Linked DNA regions of Homo sapiens. Each later gene encodes a partner of the first gene's protein in a complex. Each region holds a gene or a part of one and is shown in the gene's direction. Other genes may lie near its edges.

Region 1 (15,168 bases):
AGTGCTTAATTAATTGAAGGATGTTTTTACTATAATTATCATTATAAGTTTCTAATGCACTTAATATTTCTTAGGTATTAAGAAAAACACTTGGTGATAAAAATAAGCTCAAACATTTATAGGTAGATGACATAATTAAGATGAGATGATAGAGATGTATGGAAGACAAAAGTTGATAGCAGAGACATTGACCCCAGGTAGGACACCAAGCTAACAGAAGTAATTAAGTTCCTAATGACATCTTGTTCCTGATTTCAGTGAAAATTGTGCTTATGGAATGACTAAAAATGTAATTCCCTACTGTCAACTTGCTATCTGAGCACCTGGGTTGATGTAGCTATATCTGTTATTTACGCGGAGTGATTACTGTGTCTACTGTTGGAGTGTTCTTAGAAATGATAGCAAAGCTAAAAATAAAGTGACCACTTAAAGCAAAACCGCATCTCACCATGATGATGATAAAACATTATAATCCGTGTTCCTTGTTGAATAAAAATATCTTTTTATAATACAGCAAACCACATTTCAATCATACTGCTTTGCCATCAATAATAAAAAGGTCAGCCACACGTTTAATATCAACTTTAACCCTAGGCTATTTCCTGTTACATGAAAAATTTCAAGTGAAACAAGATCAGAGGAAAGGCAATACTTCTCTTTATTGTAAGAGGTTCTACAGAAAAGAGATATTATGGCAAAGAAGATAATTATTCATTAATGAATTTATTTGCAGAATTAATCTAAGGTACAATGTATTTGTAAATGCCCAAATTATTCTGCATAGGATCAAACAGTACTATTAAGAAGATTGCATACTTAAAAAAAAATAAAACATGGAGATCCAAATAAAACATAGATACTTAGAAATTACTACATCTGGCCGGGCGTGGTGGCTCACGCCTGTAATCCCAGCACTTTGGGAGGCCGAGGTGGGCAGATCACGAGGTCAGGAGATCAAGACCATCCTGGCTAACACAGTGAAACCCTGTCTCTACTAAAAATACAAAAAAATTAGCCGGGCTTGGTGATGGGCACCTGTAGTCCCAGTTACTGAGGAGGCTGAAGCAGGGGAATGGCATGAACTCGGGAGGCAGAGCTTGCAGTGAGCCCAGATCGCGCCACTGCACTCCAGCCTGGGCGACAGAGCGAGACTCCGTCTCAAAAAAAAAAAAGAAAAAGAAGTTACTACATCCATAAAGCAATATTGTCCCACATGGCTCTGTTAATTCTGGGATCTCCTAGAAACCAATATCCCCAGAAAGATCTCAGTGATATCAGGAGAATATCATAAAATATTCCCAGTTTCCTCAAATTACATGCGGGTTGCTTAAGAAAATGTTAAGAGAATCTCCAAATCTGGCTGGCTTGAGCCATAAAGTGGGTGGTAAGTCAAACACTGCCAGTATCTGCTCTCCTCTCTGCAAGAAAATTAGACACTACTGGAAGCGACATTAAATAGCAGCAACCTGGACGTAAAAATAGAGCACCGCTGAAATAATAGCTTGCAGTTTTGCAACACCCTGCTCTTTTCTCATGAGCTGACTTCTAGTGGATTGAAAGAGTTAACTTTCAAATTTGCCTGAATCACTGAGGGCTAAGAATAAAAAAAATGTTTTAAGTTGAGTAAAAACTCAGATATACCTAAAAATGGGTTAACAATAAAATAATATTTTTCAGCTGGGTACCTATTTCTTCATTTTTCTTCTAAAGACTAAACCTGATGGAACGTTGGATGTGTATTTTGGAAAAAGTGAAACACTACTTATTCCCCTTACTTGGCTCATTATAGATGACTTATTCTTTAATTTGGTAAAGTTTTTGATGCTTTCCAGACAGCCTAAAGACATGGAAGCTACTTCATATATAATATTTTAATCTCCATTAAGCAATTTGCCAATAAAACTTTTAACAGGGATTCATGTTTTCCACTAACATGTAATGAGGTATAACAAGTACATTCCAGCATTAAACAAAGTATGTAAAAGTAGAGGAATAATGATTTTGTGTGGGATTAAGACACATATTGCTACTAAAGAAAGGGAATCTGCATGAAATCATATGGAGGTAAATTCTTGCATCATGTTATTAAATGTTTATCCACCCACAGTCTAATTCTAGTCTTGTCTAATTTAGATTAGATAACATGAATATTTTAAAGGAAAAACACTAATTGTTTTTTACTGAAAGTTGGCTGTCTGGACTAGACTCATAGAAATGCTTTTTAGAAATGTGCTCTTACGGTTTTTGCTATTTGTTTGTGTATTTACATAAAGGAATTAAGAAACATAATATCTTCCCTGGGCTTTCTGGCTTCTAAGCATATGTCAAGTCAGTTTGGTCGTAAAGAGCATTCCTCTTCATTTATCACTGAGCTGTGTGCCAGTGGGAAGGCGCCCAAATGTACACAATTTAGTTTGCTAGGTAATTTGTTCTTTGACATTATCATTAAGAAAATGGGTTTCATTTTGGCTTCCACAAATGCTCTTTGTAATGAAGATTTACTTTGACATGAGTTGAAGAACTATATTAAGTTGTGCTCCTGTGATCATGTCTGTTTCCAGGTTGTTGATCGTCTTTTCTAGTTGCCTAATTCAATTCAGTAAGTGTTTTGGGGGCACATACGATGTACAAGTGTGAGTCCCCAAGAGTAGGCTAAGATACAGTAAGATTTCATATCATTACCAGATATTCAGGTTTCCAACATATGCATCTTACTAAGGTGACCCTCACCACGTAGCAACAAAATGTGCCAAATGTAGAGGTGTCTTCTTCTTCGTTCATATGCTGAGAGAGCATTTTAGAAACTGTTAAGTTGCGTTTAATTAACATGAGATTATTTCCCTTACATCTTCTCTTCCTTCCCACAGTGACTAAGCACATGCTATGCGATAGCTGTTTTATGTAAGTGTGTGTGTATATTTATATACATACATATGCACACATATATATTTGGGTGCATGTGTCTCTCTGTGTGTATATATATGTGTATATATATATATATATATATATATATACACACACACACACATGTGTGTGTGTGTGTGTGTGTGTCCATGTGTGTGTATGTGTATAAAGCAGTAGGTGGAGAACACGACCTAGAAATTTAACATGGGATGGCTAATCAGGATGAAAAACTCTAAGGGAAACCAGAAGTAATTCTAGCTATCTAAGGAAGAAGTAAGAAAAGAAAAGTAAAATGGCAGTACTGTTATGTCTTTATTTTCCCTTCCATTAAATATTCAGGATATTTAATAGAATATCCTAGAGTCAATCATGTGTTCATTTATTTATATCAATATATATGTGTACACACACACACACTCTCACAACCCAGAAGTCAATAGCGTGTTCATTTATATATATGTGTGTGTTTACATATACATATTTATGTGTGCATGTATTTGTATACATATGTGTATATATGTGTGTGTATACACACATATATATATCACATGTATTCTCAAAGGACTGCTTTATGTATACACACACATATATGTATCACATGTATTCTCAAAGGACTGCTTTATATATACACACACACATATATGTATCACATGTATTCTCAAAGGACAAAATAAGATACCTGCATTTGATGGGATGAATACAAAAGTTGCCATCTTTCCAAGTACTGTGAGTGAGGGATTCAGGAAAAGTGGGAATTTGAGTGAGAATTCCCCATTTATGTGCATGTACTAATGTAATGCTATTTATATGTTATTTTATGTATCTTAAACTTCTATTCAGATAACATTTTAGGAAAACTATGGCTTAGACAATTCCTAAGAATACCTGTTCCAAATTTCAGGAATTCCCCAGGAGAGTTAGGGAAGGAAAGGAAACTGAAAGAACTGACCTAAGAATCTCATAGAAATTGTGCTGACATTGGTGACATAAGATAAATATCCAAACTGGCACCTTTTCTTTGCTACGTACATGAGACTGGTGTTTGTGTAATTGCGAGGGGATGCTGTGGTGAGGGGGAATGGGGCAAAAAGAATGGTTTGGCCCCACCAGACATATTGCAGAAGAACTGCAGTCGTGTTTATGCATCAGCTTAACCTTAAAATTACTGCTGTAGAACATTTTAAAATTTAAATTATTTTTAGCATGAATTCTGAAATCCAGAGATAAGACTTTCTTAGCAAATGGCACACAATATCATAATACTTTAAATTATTTTTAGCTATGTCTTCTGATATTTAACTCTGTATTTCTAAACAATATGATTGTACTATGATTTTTTTTTCTATTTTAAACATTATCTGTTAACTTCCTGCTACAGAAAGTGACTATCTCCCTTAAATTATTTTCCCTGCTCTCCCTAATCTCACTCCTCACAGAATCCTATGCACTGAAAATCATTGCTTCATATGTTTTGGTTAATTTAATGTTTACTATTTGCATTATTTTGACTACATGAAAAAAATTAGCCACAGCTTATGGAGTATACTATAATTATATTTTCCTTCTTGTAAAACTATTTTTCCTGTGGTTGATAATTGATATCCCTAGTGTTCTCTATAACTATTAATAATTCTTCCATCCAAATTGCTTGACTTTATTATAAAATTCCTCTCAATATGTCATATATAATTTATTATTTCCCTTTTTTTAGAGACATCTCCCAGAGACAACTTTAGGAGTTATGTGAAATGATTGACCACTGGACTTGCTACACAACTTTTATCCTGAAAATTCTATACCTTCCTCACTTGTGCTGAATTCTTGGCTTCCTTTTGCCATGTCTTTCCCACTGTGTTTATTTTTTAATTTGGGGTTAGCTATCTCTCCAGTAGCTTTTGAGAAGAGGTTAAAAAAAAAGTAAGACTTTTCATATAATTTTAAGGCAGACATAATTTCCCATCCAAATTTTGAAGTCGTATTTGCCTGTCGTCTTCCCTGCACTGTTACTTTTGACAAATCTGATACCATTGATTCCCAGCTCCTAATATATCATCTCTTTTTCTCTTTCTCCGATTACATTTAGAACCATTTGCTTACCTCCTATGTTCTGAAAATTCACAACGACATTTCTTACGTGGTCTATTGTTCTTTCTGGTACCATTGCATCCTCATGAGTTCCCTTCAATCGGAAGACTTGAATCATTTGTTCTGGAACACATGCTAAAATTGTTTTCTTTGAAAAATTTCTTCTCTTAATGTTCTCTGAAGGCCGGGCGCGGTGGCTCACGCCTGTGATCCCAACAGTTTGGGAGGCCGAGGCAGGCGGATCACCTGAGGTCAGGAGTTTGAGATCAGCCTCACCAACATGAAGAAAACTGTCTCTAGGAAAAATAAAAAATTATCCTGGCATTGTGGCACATGCCTGTAATCCCAGCTACTCGGGAGGCTGAGGCAGGAGAATCACTTGAACCCAGGAGGCAGAGGTTGCAGTGAGCTGAGATGGCGCCATTGCACTCCAGCCTGGGCAACAAGAGTGAAACTCTGTCTTAAAAAAAAAAAAAAAAAAAAAATTCTCTGAAATGTTTCTGATAAATGTTACCCTCCAAGGTAACTAGTGAGTTTTCGAGTTGCAAGCAATTCTCTGGAATTTATTGTTACCTCTGCTATCTTTTCCAAAGAGGTAATTCTAGAATAGTAGAAATCTGAAGCCAGAAAGAAAGGAAGATTTCTTCTATCCAGTAGGAAACTGTACCTCAAATACCATTTGACTTGAACGTTCTGGAGGCAGAAAACTTACCACAGATAGATAGATATTTACCACAGATAGATATCTATGATAGAACTTTCTTTGTAACTATTATCCTTGTCTACAGGAGTTTCTCCCACAAAATTGGTAAGCTTCAGTAGCAAAGGTAGACTATACAATTCAGGTTTATATTCCTAATGTTTAGACAAGTTTCTGCCACTCACTGGGTACTAAATAAATGCTTGATGAATAGTGATTATGAACTAACTACTGTCAGTTCTACAGACTGAACACTTGATTTCAGCCAGTGGTACTTCATCTGCACCTTGCTCTCTCAGGCTGTAGAATCAGCAGTAGTAATTATTATCAAGCTCTTCTTTTCTAAGAACAATTGGCAGGCCAAATTATAAGGTGGTCTTCTATTTCAGAGACAAGTGCAAAAATAGAGCATGATCATTTGATATCAAATATAGATCAGTGATTTTCAAACTAGAATGTCTCCAATTGTTAAATACGGTAACATTTAATTTGTTTAATTTATTATTATTTTTTTTTGCTCTATCACCCAGGCAAGAGTGCAGTGGTGCGATCATGGCTCACTGCAGTCTTGACCTCCTGGGCTCAAGCAATCCTCCCACCTCAGCCTCCCAAGTTGCTGGGTCTACAGGTGCACGCCACCACTCCTGGCTAATTTTTGCATTTTTTGTAGAAACATCATCTCTCTATGTTACCCAGGCTGGTCTGAAACTCCTGGCTCAAGTGATCCGCACACCTCAGCCTCCCAAAGTGCTGGGATTACAGGCGTGAGCCATCATGCCCAGTAATTTTGTTCAACTTTAATGTATATATTGTATGCTATAAAACTCTTACGTTAAGGCATGGTAAGTGTTACAAAATTAACCCAAACAATGAATTCAAAATCATGCACGAATATCACAAATTTGGAAATTTCAAAAGTATTTTCCAGAATCATAGCATCATTAGAAGTACATACAGTCTCTTGTGATGTTAATGTCACGGTGCTTGAACACATGAATTTAAGAAGTGAAAAATCCCCATGGAAATTCACTTCATAAAACCAACATCCTGAAATGACCTACAATTTTCCAGATCCTCCATCCAAATCCTCAGCAACTGAGCTCATTCTGAATGAAACTGCATGAATAGGATTACAAAAGAAATGTAATAGAAATCTGAAAAATAAGTAGTCAGTTTTTTGAAATGTAATTTTAAATAAGGCGGCCCAGTGAGGAGGCTCACAGGAGAAGTCAGTCTTTTACAAAGATTTCTCTCTATTAGGGGATAGATTATAATCAATTCAGATGATTTAGGAAATGAGACCTATAAACTCAGATGTGATTGACAATAATCTAATGCTCCTATTTATTAATAATCTGGTCTTTAAATCATAGAGACAGATTTAACTATAAATCTTACAAATCAAAATTTAAATAGAAACTGGATAGGAGAGCTTGCAGACATTCATTTTTTTAAAAAAACTATCAGACCACATGACATGGAATGAATGAAGATGCCAAATGTAATAATGATCGTTATGAAAATTGAGAAATTGCATATCTTAAAAATAAAAGTGTACACTTACAGAAATGATTTGGAAATGTTGAAAGCACCTAGATTAGAAATGAAAGCAAGAAGAGTTAATGCTTTATTGGATTTATCTTATTTATAGTCTCTCTTTCCAGTTAGATTGTCTCAGAACTTGTTGAACTATCTTCCTTTGATTTGACAGAAATACTTACCTACTTGTCAAGGTTGAGTGACAGAAATTAATGAATATTATTGTCAAGTCTTAAAGGCAAAATTTTTGTGTAATTCTTTTTGCCTAAAAAGTTAATAAAACTATATTTCTTCTTAGTAAAAGAAATGAAACCAGAATTCAGGCTCAACTTAAAATATAAATGTGGCTTAGGAGTGACATCGTAATACCACTTGGTATTTCTTAAGTGAGCCGGCTCTTTCTACACTGGATAAAAATAAAGAGAGAAAAGTATCTAAAACCCTATTACCTCCCAAATGTGCCCATGAAAGCAGAAATTTTCTGGCTTGCATCTATGTGTTCTTTCCACTTTCCGTAGCCTCCCACGTTATAATGACTTATGCATGGAATTCAGAGATTTTATATTTTCTTTTGAGTGCAGAGTGAACGTCAACATGGAAAATGTGAAGGCTGACCACTTTTCAAGATGGCCACAGACCTCTGAGGGAACCAAATAGTATCCAGAAAGATACTTGGTCAGGCTGGGATACTAAAATTCTAGCACATGTCAATTTCGCCAGTTTTTACAGACTGGAAATATTTACCTCTCAGGCATGTGCTTAGTCAGAACAGCTCGAAATTTTTGTTGGGGAGTCAAGGCCCTTTACAATAGAATAGACTAAAGAGATCGAAAATCAGTATAGCAGTTAATCTTGTTTATAGCAGAAATCAGTAACTCAACCCATGTTGTGTGCTGACAGTTCTCGTGTGAAGTAAAAACTAAAAGTGTCTGCTCTGTGAATGGGATTTTTCTTTTACAGTCCAATAATATAGTTTCATTGTGGGGCAAAATTTGGGTTAGTCATTTTTATAACGTTGAGTTGACACTGGTATTATTTCTTTCCTTTAACTAAGGGTTTGAAGAATTCAAGGCAAAAATTTGGGTACCTGGTATGTGTTTGTATTCTAAGCTTGTCTTATGCATGATTTTCTTGTTTACTTAAATTTTATGGCCATATTCTAACAGAAATATGCAAACTAAACTTCTTATAAGCCAAACAGAATGAGACTGAAGTTTCTGAAGAATAGTCCCAATTGTCTTATAGTCATATCTTCCTTTATGTTCACTTGAATTCTTGCATAAAATATTTAGAGTTTACACATACTAAAGTTATGTGGGAAGAAGGGATGAAGGTAGAATCTCATAATTCCATGGAGACAATGAAGTTTGTTGACTATCTCAGTCTGGGCCTTAGAAGCAGGACCAAGTTTGAATCTCGGCTCACTTGCTACATGTATAACTTTAGTAAATTATTTAATTTCCCTTAAGCTTCAAAAATACCAGCTTGCAAGCTAGTAGTAGCAGTAGTAGGATGCATGTACAGATGTATCTGTCCTAATTGTAAATGGTATGTGTTATGCTTTCTAATCCATGCATTCTGTGTTAATATGTGCTAAACTGGATTATTCCATGTTTCTTAGTCATTCCCTGGAGTAACTACATACTGGTCGTTTGGGTTCGGTGTTAGCTCCTTCACACACTAATACATTACACATGCTGTCTCTATAGCTCAAGTTTTGCATGAACAGTTCCCTGGTGGCTTTCGCTGTGATTCAAACCAAACAGTGAATAGATTTATTTAACAACTTGTGTTCACAAAAGTAAATCAGGAAAACATGCAAGCCAGAACAATGTTTCTTCCAGTGATTTTTATTAAGTATTGCATTTCACATATTTTCTTAATGGAGTTTTAAATGTTCAGTATTTGTATCTTTATTCATTAATGGACCAATCCAACTGCCTTTAAATGCCTTTAAAAGTATTGCTGATGATTTTTATCAGAAATATTCAATGTTAAATTTCCTTCTAGTATTAGGCTTCTTAAAGAAATGACATTATTAAAGCTACTAAACAGAAGCTTTATAAAATCTCTTAACTTTGATAGCATAGATTAAGTTTTCTCTTTTCTAAGATATATTTTGACTTTAGAAACGTATCTGCGACTACATATTTTTTTGAATTTTTTAATAGGTGGTGAAATGACAGAACTCATTCGCTTCTTTGATTGGTGATTTTGAAATAATCTTTCATCAAGTTCCATCTCCTTTACCCTCATATGGAATATATCTCTCTGTCTGTTGTTAAACTACGATGACATGTCTGTAGCTATCAGAAAGAGAAGCTGGGAAGAACATGTGACCCACTGGATGGGACAGCCTTTTAATTCTGATGATCGTAACACAGCATGTCATCATGGACTAGTAGCTGACAGCTTGCAGGCAAGTATGGAAAAAGATGCAACTCTAAATGTGGACCGCAAAGAGAAGTGTGTTTCACTACCTGACTGCTGTCATGGATCAGAGCTGAGAGATTTTCCTGGGAGGCCAATGGGTCATCTTTCAAAGGATGTGGACGAAAATGACAGCCATGAAGGTGAAGATCAGTTTCTTTCTCTGGAAGCCAGCACAGAAACACTAGTGCATGTTTCTGATGAGGATAACAATGCTGATTTATGCCTTACAGATGATAAACAGGTTTTAAATACCCAAGGGCAGAAAACATCAGGCCAACATATGATCCAAGGAGCAGGCTCCTTAGAAAAGGCACTGCCCATCATACAAAGTAACCAAGTTTCTTCTAACTCCTGGGGAATAGCTGGTGAAACTGAATTAGCACTGGTAAAAGAAAGTGGGGAGAGAAAAGTTACTGACTCTATAAGTAAAAGCCTGGAGCTTTGCAATGAAATAAGCTTAAGTGAAATAAAAGATGCACCCAAAGTAAATGCAGTGGATACTTTGAACGTGAAAGATATTGCACCTGAGAAACAATTGCTTAACTCTGCTGTAATTGCTCAGCAACGAAGGAAACCTGACCCCCCTAAAGATGAAAATGAAAGAAGCACCTGCAATGTAGTACAAAATGAGTTCTTGGATACTCCTTGCACAAACAGAGGACTGCCATTATTAAAAACAGATTTTGGAAGCTGCCTTCTGCAGCCTCCTTCCTGCCCCAATGGAATGTCAGCTGAAAATGGCCTGGAGAAGAGTGGTTTTTCACAACATCAAAACAAAAGTCCACCAAAGGTCAAGGCAGAAGATGGCATGCAGTGTTTACAATTAAAGGAGACCCTGGCCACCCAGGAACCCACAGATAACCAAGTCAGACTTCGTAAGAGAAAGGTAAGACATATGCACAGATTCTCTGGCTTTTGAAATTTTGTAAATATCCTTGGATTTATCAGTTATCATTTTGCTTGGATTAAAAAGATATGAAGATGGTTCTTTTGCCCTGTTATGCAGATGTGTAATTCAACGACTACCCACTTGGTCAAACCATCAAAATATGTAAAAATTAAAGAATAATAATCTATCCGTTTCACTAATAATGTGTATAATGGTTTATGAATATTCTATTTCAGAATTGTGTTGAAAACAGGATTGGTATCCCTTTCTTTAGTTGGAATTAAATAGCCACTAGATAGCTCATAGACATGCAATTCAAGGCATTCTGTAGAGTGATTTCTAATTCTTATAAAGAAAGTCATGGTACTGTTATAGCATTTATTTGGGCATATTTCTTTTTCTCTTCAAAAAGACTATGTTTTCATAAGAAAAAAAGGTGGTATAAATCACATATTTAAAATAATCCCCTCACATATACAAAGGCTAAACTACTCCCACCCCCAAAATGTGCTGGTGCCATTTTAAGTGATACCCTGGCACACTCACCATCAATATATATATCATAGTCTCTGTTTCTTGCCACAACTGTTACTTAACTGTCAACCAGAAAAGGCTAATAACCACAATTATGTTTTATGCTACAGCCCCTTTGACTAATTCTAAAGATGCCATCCTCCCCTGCGAAGCTTTCAAGTGAGAGAAGCAAGGGCTAAGATGGTGCTACCTGAATTATGGTTTAGCAAGTGAACCCTTGACCAAAACCTGTCTTTTCTATAGAATTTCCCCACATTTTTCCAAAAACTGTAGTGAGTTATAGTCCTGATATAAGTCCAAGCACAGTTTCTTCTTCTATAAACCCCACATGGCCAATGGCATGGAAGAAACCCTGCATTTTTGACACTGGTATGCACTGATTAAAACATATATCCTTGCCCCTCTCTTGATACATTCATCCATAACTGCAATTCTCCTAAACACAAAAGTAATGTTCTTTGTTCTGTTCAACTGGGGCTATCTACCATGAGAGAGAAAAAAAAATCTACTACTTTCTTTGTAGTGAAGAAATCTGGTTTTCATAGACTGTGGTTTTGCTTACAAACTAGATCAGTAATGTGTCGTGAGTTAGTTTAAATGAAGTCAAAGACTTTACAGCAAAAATCAGTGTCCACAAGCTATATGCTAACAGAGCATTTTGTGCTTCTGGCAGACTCTCACTTCCTTACATAAGTTTTATGAAAATGTTAATGCTCCATAAAGTTGTTATGATTAAACTGTTTAGATCACTTTTTCAAAAACTTTCATATATCCTATCAAATCTGTTTGAGGGAATGCTGTAATGACATAAGACAGTATTAACTGACCTATGGCATAGCTCCCCTAAAATAAAACAAACTCCACCCAACTGCCAATGGAAACATTAAACATTCCAGAAACATATACTCACCACTTGAACATTTATATCAATACTAAGAATGCTGGAAAGAATTTACTCTTGGACATGTCACTATAGCATGGTTGCCTTTTGAGAGTTATAATTATATCTCATTTACAAGTTCTAACTTAAATTTTCTATTTTAAGCATTCTGTCATTCTAAAGTGTTGTGACATTGCCTGATGGAATATTTACTTTAACTCTACAACCCATTTAGGATGCCTTCTAATAAATAGATTAAATGAAAACTTTTAGGTTGGGAATTTATCCTAGAAAACTACAATTATGTGAGAAGCCCTTAGAACTAAAACGTGTAAGAATTTTTGTTTTATGCATTATTGGATGAGTGTTAAAATACCATTGAATTGGCAATTCGCCATTTTTAGAAATTTACCAGAAGAAACAATAGAGCATATTCATAGAAAGATATGTACAGAGGTGTTCATCACTATATTGCATGTTACTGAAAGAAAAATGAAACAGTCTACATTTGCATCAATAAAGAATTTGTTTAGGCCAGGCGCGGTGTCTCATGCCTGTAATCCCAGCACTTTGGGAGGCCGAGGCAGGCGTATCACGAGGTCAGGAGATCGAGACCATCCCGGCTAACATGGTGAAACCCTGTCTCTACTAAAAATACAAAAAATTAGCCAGGCATGGTGGCAGGCGCCTATAGTCCCAGCTACTCGGGAGGCTGAGGCAGGAGAATGGCATGAACCCGGGAGGCGGAGCTTGCAGTGAGCCGAGATTGCACCACTGCACTCCAGCCTGGGTGACACAGCGAAACTCCATCTCAAAAAAAAAAAAAAAAAAAAAAAAAAAAAAAAGGAAATGGTCTAAGAATTTGTTAATTATTTATCTATTGTATGGAATGCTGTGCTTTCATTAAAAACATGGAGTCAGATCCAAGCACACTAACTTTTAAAGAGGCTCATAATATAGTACTGAAAAACAACAGTAGCAGACCAATATGTATAGACAGCCAAATCTTAATGTCAAAATGTGTGTGTGTAGGTATGTGTGTGTGTGTGTGTGTATATATATATGAATGTAGATAGTAATATAAACCTCTCTGTATGGCTGAATAATATGTGAAATCCTGGCTAAATAGGCACAAAATTGTTAACAGCAATTACATTGGATGAGTGGAATTAAAAGAACAGGAGGGGTTTTCACTTTTTACCCCATATAATCTTTATAAAAGATCACAGAATTATGTATGAAATGCATACACTGAACAGAAACACAAAAATAAAATAATATTTAGTATATAAGCTGAGGCATTTTCTGCATGGCACAAAACAACCTTTTATCTGCATTATTATTATGATTCTGCTTTTATAAATTATGAACAAATATTTATAAAGTTTTTCACACTATTAACAAGAGTTCTAATCTAGTTGATGTCTAATACTAGTGCAACTGGTTTAGAAGAGATAAGTTTTTTGGAGGCACACATGTGCCACATTTTCATGTCTGTAGGGAATGCAGTGGCAAATGGTCAAGTGGTAGAAAGAGTTTGCTAATTGTCTATATATTTAAAACTGTTTGTCAGCCATAGTAATACCCGTAAGATAAGAACTTGGAAAAGTGAAATCAATTAAGGCTAATATCATTTTAGTTATGGAATTGTAATCAGCTCATTATCTGATAATCATGTGATTGAATCAAATCCTTCAATAAATTTGTGCACATTGATTTCTTTTGTCAAGATCACATCAAAGTTCTAAGACCTGAAGAAAAAAATAAAAGAGCTTATAAGGGGGATCTTCAAAATGTATTGAAATAGTGCTCTAGAGATATCATTGTACTTTTAATAAAAATTATCCTTCCTTGAAGCCCATAAATCTTAGCAGGCATTCATCGTTTTGCAAAGCTTAGTTTTCTTAGTTTCCGATGATATTTCAGACTACCAGGGTTTAGTCACACGTATATTTATTAGGAGTCTCAATTGGAGGGGATTACATTTGTAGTATATGTACAAGTATATACCTTTATTTTTAGTATATATGTAGTATATAGGGGATCACAAATATTGACCTTTTAAGCCAATAATTCCTCTAAATAGGATGAAATATATAATGAAATTGAAGCCACTGATATCAAAGGAAAACCAAACAAATTGTGAGCAAATGTTAGTGAATGTGCCATAAGGTTGGGTGACATATGACCAGCACTCAGGGCCTGGCTGGTCTCTGGGGTGAGGCGGCTGGTTAAAAGCAATTCTGAGACAAATTCCAAAGTAGTCTGGAGGAGGGAGACAGTCTAAGAAGTGGTCTCTTTAAACCAGATGAGATGTGAAGATGGAAAACATTTAGGGAAAGACTTGAGGTTAGACATTTTTTCTTAAAGAAGTGGGTTACTAATTAGAGAGAGTACAAAATTCAGTCTTCTGTAAAGACTACTTAAATAGTTCTGAATTTTTTGAATAACCATAATAATTATATAAATGTCTGAACATATGTTTATTTGCTCACATAAGACAAGAAATAATCCATATTACAAAGCAAAATAAACTCCAAAAAAGATGCAAAGATAATCTGAACTTTAAGAAGACACCTAATTCTACATTCCAACAAAAACCTTATATTCCAAAAACAAATTAAATGAATGTTAGGGTCTTAGTTTATCCCTCAGGTTTGTGTGTGTTTGTTTATTTCTTTGAGATGGAGTCTTGCTTCCTTACCCAGGCTGGAGTGCAGGGGTGTGATCTCCGCCCATTGCAACTTCCGCCTCCTGGGTTCAAACAATTCTCCTGCCTCAGCCTCCTTAGTAGCTGAGATTACAGGAGTGCACCCTCACATCTGGCTAATTTTTATATTTTTAGTAGACATGGGGTTTCGCCATGTTGGCCAGCCTGGTCTCAAACTCCTGACCTCAAGTGATCCACCTGCCTCAGCCTCCCAAAGTGTTGGGATTACAGGTGTGAGCCACTGTGCCCGGCCTATATCTCAGTATTAATTAGGCTATAGATTTGGCTGCTATCTCAGAAAGCATAATAGTGGTTCAAATGACATATTTCTCTCACACGCATAAAATAGGGATAAGAAGTTCTGAACTAATATATAGGCTCTATGCCTTCAGAATCCACACCCCTTTTATCTACCCTCTCTGCTCTCGAGTCCTCCTCTACATTCAAGTCAGTGGGAAGGCAAAAGGCTACAGGGGTGATCGCACCCTGTGTAC
Region 2 (12,262 bases), on another chromosome or scaffold:
CTCCAGCAAACACATGAATGGTTATTTCCTGGAGCCGGAAGCACTTGGGGGTCGTGGTAATTCCCAGTGTTTTCTGTGTCCTAGTTTTACCCTTTCTAAACACTGTCCTTTTTGAAAGTTTTGAATATATCCACATTCTATTGAAACCTTGAAACTAAAAATTTAGACTCTTATCATCATCTTAAGTTCTTCATGCTACTCTTAACCTCCCAAAAAGCAGTATCTAAGTCACATACATGATGTCTTGGGCATTTTCTCAGCCATGGAGAACTCTGAAAGGAAGAATCGCTGCTTTTCTCAAGCAAATCGGTTTCTTGATGTCTTTTGGTTCTCCTTGCCTGCTCCTGATGCTTGGACCCCTTTTATTGATCAGAGTGCTCTAGAATAATGGATGGTCTTGGATGATGGATAAATAGGGACAGGGACAGTTAAATTGGGAGCCTTTCTTACAACCTTGATGGGATTTTTCCCCCCAAGTTTCCTTCTCCACTGAAATGCCACACTAATGCTTGTTGGATTCATGAGGTGGCCAGACCAATGTGTTGTTTTGTTGTTGTTTTTTTAAGCTTCCCTTGAGAGAATAAATGGTAATGGAGAGAACTATTTAACAAGGTCCTGGTTTCTCTTGCAACACAGTAGCTAAACTTGCCTGCTTTTATATGCATTTTTGTAGGGATCAGCTTGGTAGACAGTATTAGCGGAGAAACACCTTGATCTTGGTTTGCAAGCCCTTCTCCCATCAGTCCTAGATTAGGCCCTGTTCAGCCATGCAGGGGTGTTGGTTTATGCGTGCTGCAGCAGTGGGCATAATGAATATAATTTACCCAGTGGACAAAGGTGTGTACCAAGTGAATTTAAATAATTGGTGTGGATTGGCCAGTAGCTAAGAAGTGGGCTTTTAAAGAGTATTGAAGATTGAAAGGGTTTTTCTTTCTTTTTTAAAAAAGAAAAACAAACTATTGATTGTAGATAATGAAAAGCTAGGGTTTGCCCTCTTCATGTCTACTCTCCTTCCAAATAGTTATATCCAAAACTGTTTTTCCCTCTCCCCTACCTTGTCCCCCCTATTAAAATAGAAACAGGGATTGATTAATGTCCCGCTCCTGAATACATGTAAAATTTGTACAAAAATATCTTCTATGAAAATGATTTGTAATCTGTAGACTTATTACCTGGGAGATGTCTTGATGTAAAATCCCATCCTTTGGGTTGTGGGTTTTTTGTTTTCTCCAAATAAATCTGATCTTTAAAGTTCATTGTAATGCTGAAGTTCTTTGACAAATACTCTGCACTCCCAGTGGTTTTTACTGTAGTCATTGACCACCTGCTCCTCCTCCTCCTACCATCTCTGAAGTTTTCATTCAGTATTGGATACCATATTGTCCAAGATTAGAGGGTGGGGTTACAAGGGAATCTATTTCAGTGTTTATTGAGGCCCAATAATAGAGTTTGCATCCTAGCTCCCCTCTGGCTTTTTTTTTTTTTTTTTTTTTTTTTTTTGCCTGGTGTTAAATTTTTTAATCACCTGGATGTGCCTGCAGTCTATTTCCTGTACTGTTTATTTTAATCAAGATGTGGGAACTCTAAGAATGAATCCTTGTGTCCTTGGGGCAGTTCCCTCATAATCTCCCTCCCTCACTTCAGCAATCTGGAGAGATGCTGCTCCCTTGAGTTACACCGCACTGGTGGACCAGAGATACTGGTGACAGGCTGGTCGAGGTTACCAGAACAGAGGCTCACAGACTCAGTGGGAATTTTCCAAACAGCTAGGGACAGACTGGTCATTGTTGCAAGGCGGGAAAGGGGTTAGGACAGTGGCAGAGAATCCTTAAGGTCACAAGGAGGTGGAGCATAGAAAGGAGCCCGGGAAACCTCAGTCAACAATTTTGGGGATTTAAGAGCCAAGATGAGGAGCCAGTTAAATGATTTCCCAGCCAATTGGAGCAGCTGCTCTTCTAGTTTCTGGCCAGTGCATTTATCTCTGTTCTCCAAAACTGGTAAAGTTGAAGGCTATGAGACTCAGCTGTGATGATGTGAAGGCTTTTCAATGTGGGTTTAGGTGCCCCTATTGTCCAGGCTGCCTGGAAACCTACAAGGTAATGCTTTTTCACTGCCTCTCCACCACAGGAATCAGTTTCACTCACATTCTCCAAGCCTTTGTTTCAAGCCACTCTCAGCTGTGCAATAATGAGGTCTAGGTAAATGATGGAAAGAAGGAACATAAAAATAGGAAAGGCTTGTTGAAAGAGGTTTATGATGGCTGTGTACAGAAAGGGTAGAGAGGAAGGCCCTATGTCCCAAAAGGTACTCTAAAGTCAGAGAAAACCTGGGCTGTAATATGGCCACATCCTCATTTAAATTTAAAAAGACGTGTGTGGCCAGGTGCCATGGCTCACAGCTGTAATCCCAGCACTTTGGGAGGCCAAGGCGGGCACATCATGTGGTCAGGAGTTCTAGACCAGCCTGGCTAATAGGGTGAAACCCCGTCTCTACTAAAAATACAAAAATTAGCTAGGCATGGTGGTGTACACCTGTAGTCCCAGCTACTCAGGAGGCTGAGGCAGAAGAATCGCTTGAACCCGGGAAGTGGAGGTTGCAGTGGACCGGGATCGCACCACTGCACTCCGGCCTGGGTGACAGAGCGAGACTCTTGTCTCAATGGTTGCTCACACCTGTAATCCCAGCACTTTGGGAGGATGAGGCAGGAGAATCGCTTGAGCCTAGAAGTTTGAGACTAGTCAGGGCAACATGGCAAGACCCTGTCTCTACAAAAAAATAGAAAAATTATCCAGGTATGGTGGTGTATGCCCATAGTTGCAGCTACTTGGGAGGAAGGATCACTTGAACCCAGGAGGTCAAGGCTGCAGTGAGCTGTGATCACACCACTACACTCCAGCCTGGGCAACAGAGCAAGACCCTGTCTCAAAAAAAAAGTGTGGGTCCACCGAGAAGCCCCCCAGCTGCAGGAGTGGACCCAGGACTGGTCAGCCCTCATTGTCAACGTCTTGTAAATCTTGAACTAGTGGACGAGTAGGGGGAAAGTGCAGGTGCAGCAACCTACTTCAAAAGGGCTAACTTGAGGCTGATTAGGTCCCGTGTGTCTCCCAGTCCACATTAGCCTCGTTTCTTCTCAATAGAATCAAGCACTATACTCCGGATCCCAAGGCACTAGGGTCCCAGTTCGTGCTGAGGGCGTCGCCTCAAGTGCTAAGCGAGCTCACAGCATCTGGTTTCTCAGGAAGTGAGAGAGCTACACATCTGCTCCTGGGAAGCATTATTTGTCAAATAAGCCTTGTTTCTCAGCAACCATTGTAGCCCCCAGGGCCACAAGTAAAGGGGGGCTTGCCTTCCCTTACCCTCCCCCAAAAGAAATTTGGAAGAGACGAGCTGAGCTGCTCCCCGCCCAGCTACAGCAACCTCCAGCTTGGACAATACACCCTCTGTCCTCAGCCAGGAGATCCGCCTCTGGAGTTGGCTCTGCCCCTTCCCCCACTCTTCCTGGTTCCCAGCACCCAAACCCTCTACTGGAGTTCTCCTGACCCAGTGGTCTCCAGCCAGGACAGTCCCACACCTTCAAATCCTCCCCCTACAGTCCCCGCACCCCAAGGATCTGAGCACATTCAGTTACAGGCATGGGGTCACCCCAGACCATGGAAGAGGGGGTTCCATCTTCAGTGCCAAGATGGACCACCCTCTGCATAGTCAAGGTAAGAAAACCTGTGTGGAGGGAGGTCAGAGGTGCTCCTGAAATTGTTTGACCTTTACTAACATCAACCTGGCTTTCTCCTCCTCTCCTTCTTCCTCTCTGAAGCTCCTGCTGCTGTGAGCTGGAAATCAGGATGCCTGGCTGGCCCATGAACCACTCATTTTTGTTTCACTCCCACCAAGCTACCTCCTGTATAACTTCTCATTCTCAGCTTTTCTCAGCCCTTCCTGCAGCCCCCTTCTCCACTATCCCCACATTGAGAGTAGGAATCAAGCCTGAGCTGGGAGTTTGGCCACCCATCTTGTGACCCTTTTCCAATTCCTTGGAACCTCTAAAGTTCTTCCCATGGGCCTGCCAGGCAGCAGCAAAACCAGCATGTGTGAGGTTCTAGCCCTTACCCCTCACCTCTCTGGGGTCCAATCAAGTTCCTCTTTGAGTCCCAGTCTCTCCATTGGTAACTTTAGAGCTTAAGTAAAGGTACTCCCATGGCATCCATCCCAGAGCCCAGCCAAAGACCCTAAGGAATGCTGGGAAGAGCAAGATGTTAAAAGAGCTGGTTGAAGGCTCCAGAGACATGAACACACTTAATTATCTCATGATTCTCGATTACATAATCAAATCTGGCCAAAATACATGGGACAACCTTCAGCCTTGCCCTTTCTCCAGGAGCCTCCAATCCCTGCCACTTTCCTCGGTATTCCCCTAACTCTTGCCTCTCCCCTCCTCCCAGTGCCTCCCTACTCATTCCCGCCTGGCTTCCCCCACCCCCACCTCTCCTGTCCCCAGTCCCCAGTGACTCCCACTGCTCTAACCTCTGAAACTGTCTATTGGACACCAACTCAACCAAGAGCAGTAAGATCAAGGCTCCCCAGTCCCAACCATATCCACCCCTCCCAAATGCCAATTTCTGGGTGGGGGGGGACACACAGTCATCACGCACTTCTTCACAGACTCTTCTTCCCTGTGGCAAGATTGGAATCAGGTGCTCCACCCCCTGGAAATGAGAACCAGACTTCTCAGCCTTTGCCAAAGACAAGGGACCCAGTTGAGATGAGACGGGGAGGGAAAGAAGGCCTTAGAGCCAGTGGTACTGGCTACTTTGGGCAAGCACTGGGCATTGAGCCCTGGGCACTGGGTTCTCAGAATTCCAACCTTCCTTCCCCCCGCCCCTTTTCATCATGGAAAATCCAGCAGGGAGGGTGAAGGAGGGAGAAAGTTTCAGGAAGTGCTCACTGCTAAAGGACGTTGGGGGAATGTAGGAATGGCAACAGGTTCAGAACTTCTAGGAAGATGTCCCCTACCTTATCCCTACCCTCCACCTTCTGCTCCAGGGTGGCACGACTCAAACCTGCCCTACGGCCCATTAGCTCCATTCCATGAAGTTCCTATCCAGTACCAGGCACTGCAAAAGAAGGGAATGAGGTCAGACCATAGAAAGAACTTCCATCTCCATTTGGAAAGGCTGGACTCAAGTTAAATGTAAGGAAGACCTTCTCAGAGGTCTCCTGCGAACTGGGAATGACGGTCCAGCTCTTTAAAATAGGGCAATGGGCCGGGCACGGTGGCTCACGTCTGTAATCCCAGCACTTTGGGAGGCCAAGAAGGGGAAATCGCTTGAGCTCAAGAATTGGAGACCAGCCTGGGCAACATGGCGAAAACCCATCTCTACAAAAAATTAGCTGGGCGTGGCGGCGCCCATCTTGTAGTCCCAGCTACTCGGGAGGCTGAGGTGGGAGGATCGCTTGAGCCTGGGAGGCAGAGGTTGCAGTGAGCCGAGATGGCGCCACTGCACTCCAGCCTGGGCGACAGAGACAGACTCCCGTCTCAATGAATAAAGCAGGGCAGTGGATGGGATGGCTGGAGCTGCTTGCGGGTGGAGATGGGGGCTTGAGCCTGACGGAAAGGTCCCCAGCTGTGAATCCTTTGAGAATACTAGCCCAGGAGAAGTCTCCTGTGGGGCAGAGGACCAGGGAAGGGTGTCCAATGACTTGGGCCAAAAGTAACACCAGGTGTCTTCACCTGATTCAGGCGCCCGCCTGGGTAGGGGACGCTAGCACCACCAGGCTAAGCCACGGGTGGTCCTCTCAGGTCAGGCCCAAGCCCAGGCACACTCCTGTGGGGAGGGTAAGAGGCTGACGCTGCGCGGCAGTTCCCTGTCCCCTTGTTCCTAGTCCCTTCTAGACCTACGCCCACCGTTTCTTCTGCGTCTGTCTGGCTCGCGTGTTTCTTTCTGCCTGTGTCCCGCCGGGTCAGGCTCTCCCCGTCTCTCAGACTTTCCCGTCCCCGTGTCCTCCGCGGCCGTCTCTCTCCAACTCTCTCCCCCTCTCAGCCACTTCCTGTCTCCAGTATGTCCCTGGCGCGGCCCGGCTGGCCGTCTGCGCACCCTCTCTCCCCTCGGCTCTTTGTGAGTGTGGGTTCGCGGGAGAAGGTGGGGAGGAGAGGAGGCCGAGGGGTGGGGAGCTGGCGGAACGTGGGGATTGGAGCCGGGAGGGAGGAGGAGGAGGAGCGGGCTGCCACGGGCGCGGGCGCGGGCGCGGGGCGCGGCGGGGGCGGGAGGGAGCCCAGCCGAGCCCGGCCGCCCGCTCCCGCCACTGCCACCGCCTCCTCCTCCGCGTCCGCTCGGCGCGGGCACGGGCGGGATGGGCTGGCCCGGCGGCTCCCCCTGCTGCTGCCCCGCCCCGCCGCGCCCCCGCCCGGCCGGGCGCCCCCCGCAGGTGAGTGGCCGCGCCGCGCTGGGCGGGCGGCGGTCTCTGCGTCACGGCCGCGCGGGCAGTGCCAGGGGCGGGCGCCAGGGGGCGCGGGGCCGCCGGAGGTCGAGAGGGCGCGGGGCGCGGGGCGCGGCCCAGGGCTGGGGCCGGGGGCTCTGGCTGGCCGCGGAGAGCTGGGAGCAGCGGGAGGCCGGGACAGTGACTAGGGGGCGGGGCGCGGCCGCGGCCCTACTCGATCAGGCCGCCACGCCTTCCAGCACCCGGGGCGCACGGGGCCGCACGCCGTGCCACACACGCAGGCCCGGGACCCGGCAGCAGCTGGCAGCGGCGCTCGGGCCCCGGCCTGGCAGGGTGCGGGCGAACGTTTTCCTTTCCTGCTTCACATGTGGGACAGAGGCCGTAAGCGGGCACAGATGAGGCTGATTCGACTCGCCAGCCCCGCTCTGCGGCCCCCTCCAGTCTGCCCCCATCCTCCAGACCCTTCTGGGAACACCCCCAGAGCCGCCGCCCTCCCTCGCTCCTTCCCTGGGCCTTACCCCTCCTCCGCGGCGGCCGGGCTCCCAGCCTCCCTTCCAACCACAGCTATTTCCAGAAAGGGGGGTGTGGGTGGAGGGGTTTCTCCAAACAAACCCAAGACTTCGGAGAGAGAGGGGGCCCGGCTGGGGGAGAGGTTGACAGGCTCTGGAATGTTACAGGCGGGAGGAGGGTGAGGGTCCAAGAGGGTCTAGTGATGCCTTCCCAGCCCTCCTCAAGTGAGCTACTTTTCCCCTCGGGACTGGCTCATAGGGATCCCATCCCTGCTTCCCTTCCGAGGTGCGAGTGCCACAGGATGGGAGGGACTCACAGCCACAGTGGATCCTGACCACCCCACCCCTCACCGAGCTCACTGCTTGGGCACCTCCTTGCTGGGTCTGGGTGGGGAGTGTGAGACCAGTGAAGGTGAGAGGATGTCTGGGGACCTGTTCCAGGTGAGGGGACTTTCAGCCCCTATGGAGGCAGCAGGAGAGTGAAGCATGTAGAGGAGTCCTGGTCAGGGCCATGTGCCATAGGAGCAGAAGCTGGGACTGGACAGAAAAAAGCCACCCCCACTGCCCACCTTGTCACACTGCCCCATCTCCCCCAAGCAGGGCTGGGGGCTCGACAAGGCCAGGCCCGGTTGCCCACACTGGCCGGGGGCCTGGAATGTGCTGGGACACAGCCAGGCTGGCAGGATGGGGGTGGGTCACAGAGCCCGTGCTCCTCTCCAGTTACAGGCAGGGAGCCCAGGCCTGCCACACAGATGCCACCTTCTGGCCAGGATATCCTGGGGACACATTTCTTGGCCTGGAAAATTGGAGCTTCCAGGGAGAGGTGTCAGGCTAGGCCCAATCCAGTCAGGTCCTCGCAAGGGTCTCAAGTGGGCACCCACAGCAGGCCTCACCCCAGAGAATGCAGGATTCTTCATCCCAGGGAACCCATCCTGGTGGATATGAAGGAGCAGGAAGCAAGTAGAAGGGACTCCGTGGGAGAAGCCAGGGCTGGGGGAGTTGCCTGAGTACTGGGACATTCAATAAATACCATGCAAATGAGAGGGGCACATTTGCACATTCTTTCAAGTGACAGCTATAGCCTGTCCCAGGGGCTGCTGTCCACAGCTTGGGGCTGAAGACTCCCAGGCCATTAACCCCTTAGCTTTTAGGAAGATTACTCCCCCTTTTTCAAGGCCCCATCCACCTCCCTCCCTTGACTCCCAGGACGGGAAGTTGGCCATGTTCCCAGGAGGGAGGCCGGAGGCCCATGGATGGGGGTGGAGTATGTGTTGGGAGGGGGGACCTCCTGTCCAGTCCTCAGGCCCTGGGACAGCTGCTGAGGAAGGAGAGCAGACCCAGGAGAGCCATGAAGGTAGTACTCAGGCTTCGGGGTTGCCGCGGGGGGAGGGTGCAGCCCTTGGGTAGAGAGCCCAAGTTGCAGGGCTGGAAAGAGGGCTAGGGATCTGTGAGATCATGTCTGAAACAAAGCCAGGGAATGGGTGAGTGGGGGGCACTGTGTCAGGAGCAGAAACCTGGGGGCTTTCAGGAGAAGGGCCTCATATGCCTTAGGCTGTGGCAGGAGAATGGATTACTCCCCAAACCTGAGCAAAGCAGTCTTGTGGCTGGAACTTGGCCTTGCAAGGTGTATTGAGGGTAAAGGTGGGCGGTGCATGCTTTCCTTTTCCTACTTCATAACGAGTGAAACTGAGACAGGAAGGGGGCCCCCAGTCCCATTTTTACCTGACTCTCAGGACACACTCGGGATCCTGGGCCTGCCTGCTGGTAGTAGTTCCCAGCTCCACTCCCTCCCCAGCGGAAGTCCCTCGAGAGCTTGAGAGTTCAGGCTGGAGCCTGGCTGGGACACACTGTTCCCCACTTGCCCTTTAGCCCTGCCCCGAGACCAGAATTCTCACCCGGCCCCACCGGGGGTGGGGGCAGAATCTCAAGACCATGGATCCCTGCAGATCCCTGGAGAGTGTGGTGTCCCAGGTGTGGGACAACTCCAGAGTTGGGGGAGTAGGGGGAGCAAAAGATCACAGGCTGACACTCCCAGCAGGGTAGATCCTGGGAATCTGATCTCCTGGCCTCCCCCACATCCTCCCCCCTCCACTTCCTGGAGCAGCGACCTGCCCCCTTCCCGCCTGCACTTCCCTCCACTTCCAGGGCCGGGCTTCTCCTCACACCAGCCAGACAGCCTACCCTCCGCCCAGGGGAAGCGGCTGCCTCCGCCAGGCCGCTTCCAGGAAGCCCCGGGCCAGGCCCCAGCATTGTTCAGGCCCTGGGGCCAGCACCCCAGCCAGCCGAACACCATGAAGTCCAGCGGCCCTGTGGAGAGGCTGCTCAGAGCCCTGGGGAGGAGGGACAGCAGCCGGGCCGCAAGCAGGGTAGGAGTGCCCACCAGCTGGGCAAAAGAGGGGCAGGGGTGGAGGTGCGGGCAGTGGGGGAGGGGACCAGGAATCAGGCCAGGCCTTCTTCCCAATTTCAGCTTCCTCAGCCTTCTTCCCTGGCCCAGCATCCCCTCCGGAGTGGCCAGGGCTGTAGTGTGAGGGGATGTTTGGGTTAGAGTAGGTCCTGCTGTCTGTTTTGGCTCCTCTCACCTTCCCTGCTCTAGCCTGGGCCAACCCCAGGAGGTCCTGGCCCCCCAACATAAGCCCCAGGTGCCTCACTGCAGGACTTTGCCATGCGCTATCCAGGTATCCTCCAGCAGGCTCAGAGATCATCAGGCCCCTTCCCTGGCCCAGGGAAGTTTGAGGGAAATGGGGTGGCAGGGTGGAAAAAGAGAGAGGAGAGGGAGTCAGGAGTGCTTTGGAACTGGAGGTTTGCTTTCCACTGACAACATCCATATCTGCTGCTAATGCCAACATGCTCCCAAGTGTCTTAGTGGGTCCCACAAAGTTGATCCAGCCCAGAAGAGTTGCAGGGACAGTCAAGAAACCAGAGGTGCTGCCCACATCCCCATCACTCCCTTTCCCAACTTCCCAGCCTTGCCCCAAAAGCAGCAGCTCAGGACAACCTGAGATACTACTGTGATGGGTCCCCGGGAGGAGGACAGCAGGAGTCTGAACTCCAGAGGAGGGGGAATATGGGTAAAACAGAGAGATGGCAAGGAGACAAGCTGTCCCCAGACAGAGGATGGGAGGAGAGAACCCACAGTGGGAGGGGAAGGGACTGAGATAGGCCTGGGCCATAAGGGGGCATCCCAGGCTCCTGCCTCACTGCATCTCTGGGTCAGGAGGGGCTGAACAGGGAATCTGGTCCACTCCTTTCTCATTCAATGCGTGAATCCCAAGTGCCAGGGTGCAGGGGGTCGGGGGAGAACTCACAGCATCCAAAGCCAGCTAAACATCTCTCCCCAGTGACAGGCTTCTATCTGTTTCCCTCCAGCATGACCACCCCCATTACACAATTGCTGTCTGCTGCCTCAGTGCACAATGAGTAAACATGTTGTTCTGACCGTGGGGGAGGAGGGCATGTCAGCTGCCTGGAGCGTGGGGACAGCAGGAGCTAAAGGAGCAGGACTGGCTGAGGCCACTCCTGCCGGCTCAGTCTGGTGCTGCAGGACTGACATACAACACATATGTTTGGAACCTCCCTGCTCACTCTGCACACAGGTCTCCATGCGGGGAGGACAAGATGGGAAGAGTCAGGGAGTACCCTTACCACACCAGGGGGAAAGCCTGAGCATGGAGGCTTTTCCACAAGGGCATCACACACCAGGGCCATGTGAGGGGCCCAAGTGATCCCCTGGGGAGGAGCTGACCCAGCAAAGGTGACGCAAGGGGTCAGATTCCATGCACAGTTGAGGACAGGCCCCATGACCGCCCTGAAGCAGCTGTGGCCAAGTGCGTCCTACAAGTTTGAGGGCTTGATCTGGACGGAGAAAACCAGTGCAGTGCTAAGGCAAGGCTCCTGCCCAGTCCCGGAGATGGAGATGGGCCCACTGGGAACTCACACCTCTGTTTGTCCCTCCACCTTCAGCCTAGGAAAGCTGAGCCTCATAGCTTCCGGGAGAAGGTTTTCCGGAAGAAACCTCCAGTCTGTGCAGTATGTAAGGTGACCATCGATGGGACAGGCGTTTCGTGCAGAGGTGAGGCTCTCTGTCCTGTGACTCTGAGACCCTCCACCCAGTACCACTGTGTTGCACAACTCCAGCAGGCCAGCTCACACAATCTCAAATGTAATATGCTGCTCCTGGATTAGGCACAATGGCAGCTAAGAAGCAGCTGCCTCCCCCTTCAGATGGCCCTGGCTCCCCATGACAGACACCTCCCATAACCCAGGAGAGCCAGTACTCTCCATCACCTTCCCATCCTGACTTGTGACGGTAGTCTTCCTTCCCTCTCTTCCTCCTCACCTCCACCCACCCTGGAACGTTACCCCTGGCCTGGGCAGTAGTACCCCACTGCCACACTCTTCCCTCAAAACCTAGCCCTGCTCCTCTGCCCCAGCCAGCCCAGTCCAGGTGGGATCTTGGAAGTCCCAGGGTCTGGTTCCAGGGTCTGGGAGATGAGGGAAGGCCATTCCTTCCACTGTCCCACAGGCCCCTGCTAACCCCTCTCCTCCCCTTACCTTCCCTAGTCTGCAAGGTGGCGACGCACAGAAAATGTGAAGCAAAGGTGGGTATCTGATTCTACCTGATAGGGGGAGAGGGTCTGGAGTCCCTTCCTCCTCCCAAACAGGCTTCTGCAACCACACTGGCATCAACCCTCCACCTCCACCCCTCTCACCACTGGGGAACCCCTCCTGGGTGGGAGGGGTGCTGTACTGGGCCCTTTAAGAACCACCCTACTCCGCCTTCTGGAGGGCTGGCCAGCCCAGGCGGGTGGACAGCAAGACAGCGTTTGTCTTGGTGCTGTGCCCAGACTGCAGCTGGCGAGAGGATGGGGGTGGGGAAGAGGAGGAGAATGAGGAGGAGGAAGGGTGGGGTGGGTGGGGAGTGGGGGAGCAGGATTTCAGAGACTGGGCAGCCGGATGGGCTGTGCCTTCCCTCTGGGGAAGGGTCCTCAAAATGCCTGGGCGGGTCTTGTCCTGGGCCCTGGAAAAACTGGGCCTTTCCAGGTATAAGCTGTGGATAGCACCCACTGTCCACTGGGGACCTGAGACAGCCCTGTCTCTGAAGAGGTCCCCTGGTCCTCTTCCTTCAGGACAGGGGGAGGAGGATCCCAGGGCCCTGGAGCTGGCTTGGGGGAGCTGTGTGCCCAGGGGCGGGGTCTCCCGGTGAAAGAAGCCAGTGTCCATCCCTGGCCATGGCCTGCCTGCTTGGCTCTATATATAACTCCTGCCCTACAGCTGGATGAATGGGGGTCTGTGTGGGCTGGGGGCTGAGCGCCAAGAGCAAC

The links.
Region 2: the proteins of DLC1 (region 1) and TNS2 are in contact, whole or in part, in an NMR structure (PDB 2LOZ), measured with the Homo sapiens proteins. Residues at the interface, in NP_001335010.1 of Homo sapiens: Glu811, Asp812, His813, Lys814, Pro815, Gly816, Thr817, Phe818, Pro819, Ala821, Leu822, Thr823, Asn824; in NP_736610.2 of Homo sapiens: Asp1268, Leu1269, Leu1270, Arg1271, Gln1272, Gly1273, Ala1274, Ala1275, Cys1276, Lys1317, Ser1319, Ala1320, Gln1321, Thr1324, Leu1387, Asp1388, Pro1389, Asp1390, Gln1391, Val1403, Leu1404, Leu1405, Gly1406.

The regions. Positions count from the first base shown.
Region 1 is NC_000008.11:13,494,428-13,509,595, reverse strand, and holds part of DLC1 (rho GTPase-activating protein 7), read left to right. Parts: intron 1-9,399; 5' UTR 9,400-9,524; coding exon 9,525-10,547; intron 10,548-15,168. UniProt on the Homo sapiens protein: Functions as a GTPase-activating protein for the small GTPases RHOA, RHOB, RHOC and CDC42, terminating their downstream signaling.
Region 2 is NC_000012.12:53,040,954-53,053,215, forward strand, and holds the start of TNS2 (tensin-2), read left to right. Parts: upstream 1-9,111; 5' UTR 9,112-9,232; coding exon 9,233-9,307; intron 9,308-10,901; coding exon 10,902-11,010; intron 11,011-11,501; coding exon 11,502-11,539; intron 11,540-12,262. UniProt on the Homo sapiens protein: Tyrosine-protein phosphatase which regulates cell motility, proliferation and muscle-response to insulin. Phosphatase activity is mediated by binding to phosphatidylinositol-3,4,5-triphosphate (PtdIns(3,4,5)P3) via the SH2 domain.